Linked DNA regions of Homo sapiens: region 1 is linked to region 2. Evidence: fine-mapped expression QTL. A gene starts in region 2. The other region holds a variant in brackets. All regions are shown on one strand. Distances are between the middles of the regions. Region 1 overlaps LOC105371825 (a long non-coding RNA gene). Region 2 holds the start of EME1 (essential meiotic structure-specific endonuclease 1).

Evidence for each region.
Region 1: its variant is fine-mapped to the expression of EME1 in testis (GTEx, PIP 0.97).

What each region holds. Positions count from the first base shown.
Region 1 is chr17:50,887,827-50,890,740 of GRCh38, forward strand. It overlaps LOC105371825 (a long non-coding RNA gene), which reads right to left. Exons shown (of 3, transcript XR_001752940.2): 3 at 1-753. Among named protein-coding and RNA genes, the nearest start is that of TOB1-AS1, 23 kb to the left of the region's middle. The variant C/G (reference allele first, on the strand shown) is at 1,105.
Region 2 is chr17:50,371,699-50,374,612 of GRCh38, forward strand. It overlaps EME1 (essential meiotic structure-specific endonuclease 1), which reads left to right and starts at 1,531. Exons shown (of 9, transcript NM_152463.4): 1 at 1,531-1,579. It overlaps MRPL27 (mitochondrial ribosomal protein L27), which reads right to left and starts at 1,486. Exons shown (of 4, transcript NM_016504.3): 1 at 1,433-1,486. The coding sequence starts at 1,472. RefSeq lists enhancers at 1,020-1,489, 1,630-1,849.

The DNA.
Region 1 (2,914 bases), 520 kb after region 2:
CCTTAGAGAGCTTCCAGGTAAGTCCAAGAGACTGACTTCAACACAGACCTGGGCTAATTGCCCATTTCGCTCCTTGCCCTGGGGCCTATTGTTTTCCACAAATTGCGTCCCCACTTGAGACTCAGTCTTCTCTCCCTCATCGCCATGCAGTCATTTCAGCCCAGTTGCAGAACAGGAGAACATGAATGGAAAAAGGATTGAGTCCACACTGTGGTGGCTGCAAGAGGTGATTCAAGATCTAACATTCTGAGTAGTTTCCAGACAGTTGAGGACAGCCCAGGCTGGGGTCCAGAGGTGGGGATCAGGCAGGAGGAGCAGGAGCAGCCAGAAGGCAGGATCAGCCAAAGCCCTTGAAGAATGCCAAAGGGCAAACTGCAGAAAGCGAGTTCAGGTGTCAGATCCCAAAGGCGAGAGGAGGGCTGTAAGTGGGAGATGACCCAGGGGGCCCTGGAATGGAGTGGGAGCAGGTTGGGCCAGAAGTGGGAAAGCTATCACCCTCACTAGTGACTGGGAGAATTCCCAGAAGGACAGCAAAGGTGCCCACTGTGATGGCGTGGATGGGCTAGGTCAGCACAGGTGCTCAGGCCAGGACAGATACTTCGTCCCTGGCCACCCAGCCTTGGCCATGGTCCTCACAACCAAGCCCCACAAGGTAGCCCCAAGCCTGGGCAGAGGAGCCCTGGGCATGAATGCATCCTAAACTCTACCCATCAGCGCTGATCCATGACAAAGTTTTTGTCCATCAGCTACAAACTGGAAACAACAACAACAACAAAACATAAGTGAGCTTTTAATAACGTTAATTTTTGTTTCTAGTTTAAATTCTGATATGATGGCTGTTTTACTTTTGGTGATAAGATGGCTTTTCTTTTATGAAGACATGGTGATGGGAGGTGATAGGGCTTTTTTTGGTTGTTTGAATTGCCTCACTAGGTCGGGAGCAGTGAGTGGCTCATGCCTGTAATCCTAGTATTTTTGGGAAGCCAAGGTGGATAGATCACCTGAGGTCAGGAGTTCGAGACCAGCCTGGCCAACATACTGATACCCCATCTCTACTAAAACACAAAAATTAGCCAGGCATGGTGGCACGTACCTGTAATCCCA[C/G]CTACTTGGGAGGCTAAGGCAGGAGAATCGCTTGAACCTGGGAGGTAAAGGTTGCAGTGAGCTGAGATTGTGCCATTGTACTCCAGCCTGGGTGACAGAGATGGTGTCTCCAAGAAAAAAAGGAATTGCCTCACTTGGCTAAATTTAAAGTTGACAATATTGGTTCCCAGATTTGAGGAAATTTTTTTCTCTTTTTTTCTTTTTGAGACGGAGTCTCACTCTGTCACCCAGGCTGGAGTGCAGTAGCACAATCTCAGTTCACTGCAACTTCTGCCTCCCAGGTTCAAGCAATTCTCCTACCTCAGCCTCCTGAGTAGCTGGGATTACATGTGTGCGCCACCACACCTGGCTAATTTTTGTATTTTTAGTAGAGACAGCGTTTCTCCATGTTGGTCAGGCTGGTTTCAAAATCCTGACCTCAAGTGATCTGCCTGCCTCGGCCTCCCAAAGTGCTGGGATTAAAGGCGTGAGCCACCGCATCCTGCCCAAAAAATTTTGATAAAGCATCAAATCCCAGTCTGGTCACCTCTGCTCTAAGAAACTAAGAAATCCTGTCCCTGAAACCCAGATCCTGGCTGCCAAAATAACACCATCATCCTTGCCATCAGCCACCACAAGGGCACTTACAGGGCATGCACTTTGAGCCAAGCTCAATCTAAGCCTTTGCATGTGCTAATGAACTCCTTCCCTGTTTTGACCTCTTGCCCACTTACTGTCTGCCAGATTTCTGGATTTGGCCCTCCCAGCTCTGAGCTCTGACAGATCCCACTGAATACCAGTTCCAATGGCTCCCTTGCTACAGGTTTCTGCAGGTCGTATCATGAGATTAGTTGCTATCTTAAATGGAAGCTCATGAAAGTGCTTCTCCGCTAAGGTAGAAGGAAACTCCATTTCGAACTCTCTCTGTCACTGCTGCTAAATGTCCCTTTTCCCAATGCTGCTGGGAATCTGACCCATGGACTTCTACAAACCTTCAGCAAATATGTGTTCCCTGGACTCTGGCTGCCTACCTGGAGGCTGACTTTGCCTGGAACTTTGCAGGCACCTCTCCTTCAGAGCTCTCATACCTACTAACACCCAATTACATCCTTCATTCTTTCCTAGCTTTATCCAAATGACAGTCAAGCTGCCTGGGGCTAAGGGGGATGATCTCTGAGTCCTGCATATAGATGGTGTATGAGATTTAAAGAAGGTGTGATTTTAAAAAAAGTGTGATTTGAGGGACGCTATTTATTTTATTTTACATAAAAAAGAAGAACCAGGATGCTGAAAATGATGCTATTGATTATAAATAGGAAGAAAACGCTAGTCGGTTGAAATAGCCAGTATGGTCTTGGTCATTCATAAGGAAAGAATGGCCCCTGTCCTGGGAGCTGGCTTTAGAAGAACCCACTGTGGCAGAACTGGTCAAATCCTCCACCACCTAGTACCTATAGGCTTTCAATTTCCTGCCAATAAGGCACCAAGGTCTGCCTGAGACTTGACATCTAAAAAACTCCTAATTGGCCAGGTGCGGTGGCTCATGCCTGTAATCCCAACACTTTGGGAGGCTGAGGCAGGCAGATCACTTGAGGCCAGAAGTTCAAAACCAGCCTGGCCAACATGGAGAAACCCATCTCTACTAAAAATACAAAAATTATCCAGGCATGGTGGCTGGCGCCCATAATCCCAGCTACTCAGGTGGCTGAGGCTCAAGAATCCCTCGAACCCGGGAGGCGGAGGTTGCAGTGAGCCGAGATTGAGCCACTGTACTCCAGCCTAGGCGACAGAGTGAGACTCCGTCTCAATAAATAAATAAATACATCAATAG
Region 2 (2,914 bases):
TAGCTGGGGCAAAGGACCAGAGATAAGGACTCAGAAAGACAACATGTTAAAACATGCCCGGCGCCAGGATCTACCTACCTTTAAACATCTATTCATTCATTTACATACTTACTAAGCTCAGGAGCTGGGCTTTTACTTTACTTACATTATCTCACTCACAAATCTTTGCTCTTCACCCTACTCCCCATCCTCCTCCTCAAAGTAAATGGTACCACCATTCATCCAGTTGCTTAGGCAGAAACCAGAGTCATTGCAGATTCCTTCTCTTTGCTGTCCTCACATATTGTTCACCAGCAAGCTCTGTGGATGCTAACTCCAAAACAGATCTCAAATTCATCCGTTTTCCTCCAAGTTCACTGCCACCACAAACATCTTGGCTAAATCATCTCTCCTCAGGGCTATTACGACTTTCCATTTGATTTCCTCATTTCCACTCCTATCCCCTTTAAATTTACATAAGAGCAATAGTTTGCTTCTCAAAATGTAAAACTGGCTCAAGTCACTCTCCTGTCCCTCACTCTACACAGGTCTAGGTCTCCTGTCATTCTTTTTTTTTTGGGGGGGGGGGATAGGGCCCCATTCTGTCACCCAGGCTGGAGTGCAGTGGTATGAACATAGCTCACTGCAACCTCGACCTCCCGAGCTCAGGTGATCCTCCCACCTCAGCCTCCTGAGTATCTGAGACCACAGGCAAGCGCCACTACACCCAGCTAATTTTTGTATTTTTTGTAGAGATGGGGTTTTGCCATGTTGCCCAGTCGGTCTTGAACTCCTGGGCTCAAGCGATCCGCCCACCTAGGCCTCCCAAAGTGTTGGGACTACAGGCGTGAGCCATCACGCCCCGCCTGTCATTCTTTAGGTTTTAAATGTTATCTCCTCAGAAGCCTTCCTTCACCGTCCAATCTAAAAAAAGACACACACACAGACACACATTATCCTTCTTCACAGCACTTGCCAGTCTACATCTACTTTATATGTTCATTTATTGCCTTATGCACCAGAGAGAACCGTTCGGGGGCTAGAAGCCAAGTCTTCACGTTTTCTGCTGATTTTCCGAACACCTACCGCCGTGTCTAGCACAAAGTAAGACCTCAATCTGCTGAATCAATAGATTAATTTTTTCAACCCCAATATGCCAATGTTACTAATACTTCTACAGAGAAAGGACCCACCCAAATCCCCAACCGCCAAGGAACCCGTCCGTGCTGCTGAGGCAGGAGAAAGACAAGTGCTCTTCAAACGCCCTCACTCACGGCTCCACCCAGGATGTGTCACGTGACCAGCGACACCGTCCCTCAAACCTGGAGTACCCCACACACTTCCCCTCGCATCCAAGGTCCTCCGCGGGGATCAGTGTCACCTCCTTCCCTCCCTGCTGGAGCTCCACTCTGCCTCCCCGCCTCACCCCGCTCTGACTACTGCGTCCCATTACCGGCTGTCCGGGTCCTCAGCGCCAACACCACCGACGCCATGCTTTCGATCACTCACTTCCGGTCTCGAAAAGTTTCTACTTCCGCTATCAGGAGATCTACTTCCGGGCCCTGCGTGGCAGTTGAAAGAGTGGCGGGAGAAGTTGCAGGTGAGCGTCCCCGGTCGCAGGCCTGCGGATTGGGCAGGGCTTCCCTCCTGAACACCGCTCTGCAGAATCTTGGTGGCTAAGGTGTCCAGGAGCCTCTGCAGCGGACCGCCAGCCTGAGAGGCGCAGAGCTTGTCGGGCAGGGGCCCGCTTGTCCCACTCCCCTGATTTGCAGATGTCAACGGAGGCCCAGCGAAGGGTCAGAGATGAGGCCCCCTCCCTAGTCATTCAACTTACTCTACTTAGCCAGCTGTGTGCCAGATGCTGTACTAAGCGCGGTGGATGCATTATTTTATTTAATTCTCACTACCTTATAAAATGGGTGCTGTTACCATCCCTGTTTTACTAAGGAAGAAACTGAGGCCTAGGCAGGTTACATGTCTCCTTCTGGGTCATACCTACAGTGTTAGTAAATGTTCAAGAAATGATTAGCTTTGCATATGACCCAGCAATTCTACTCCTAGGTATATACACGAAAGGGATTTGAAAACATACCCCCACAAAAACTTGTATGTCAGTGTTCATAGCAGCATTATTCATAACAGGCAAAAAAAGGAAACAAATTAAATGTCCAAGTGATGAATGGATAAACAAAATGTAGCATATCCATACAGTGGAATATTATTCAGTCATGAAAAGCAATTAACTACTGATACAGGCTACATCATAGATAAACCTTGAAAACAAGCTGAGTGAAAAAAGTCAATCACAAAAGGCCACATAGTGTATGATTCTATTTATATGAAATATCCAGAATAGGCAAATGCATAGAGACAGATTTATGGTTGCCAGGAGCTGGGGAGGGAGGGAAAGGACAGTGACGGCTTAATGGCTGCAGGAATTCTTTTTGAGGTGATAAAATAGTGATGATGGTTGCACAACATTGTGAATATACTAAAATCTACTGAATGTACACTTTTAAAAGGATATTATGCTGTGCAAATTATATCTCTATTTTTATTTTTATTTTATTTTTCTTTTGAAGCAGGGTCTCACTCTGTCACCCGGGCTGGAGTGCAGTCGTACAATCACAGCTCACTGCAGCCTTGACCTCCCAGGCTCAAGCAATCCTCCCACCTCAGCCTCCTGAGTATCTGGGACTACAGGTGTGAGCCACCATACCCAGCTAATTTTTGTATTTTTTTGTAGAGACGAGTTCTCACTATGTTGCCCAGGCTGTTCTCGAACTCCTGGGCTCAAGTGATCCTTCTGCTTTGGCCTCCCAAAGTGCTGGGATTATACGCATGAGCTACCATGCCCAGCCTATATCTCAATTTTTAAAAAGAACAGTTTTTGGCCAGGTGCAGTGGTTCACACCTGTAATCTCAGCACTTTGGG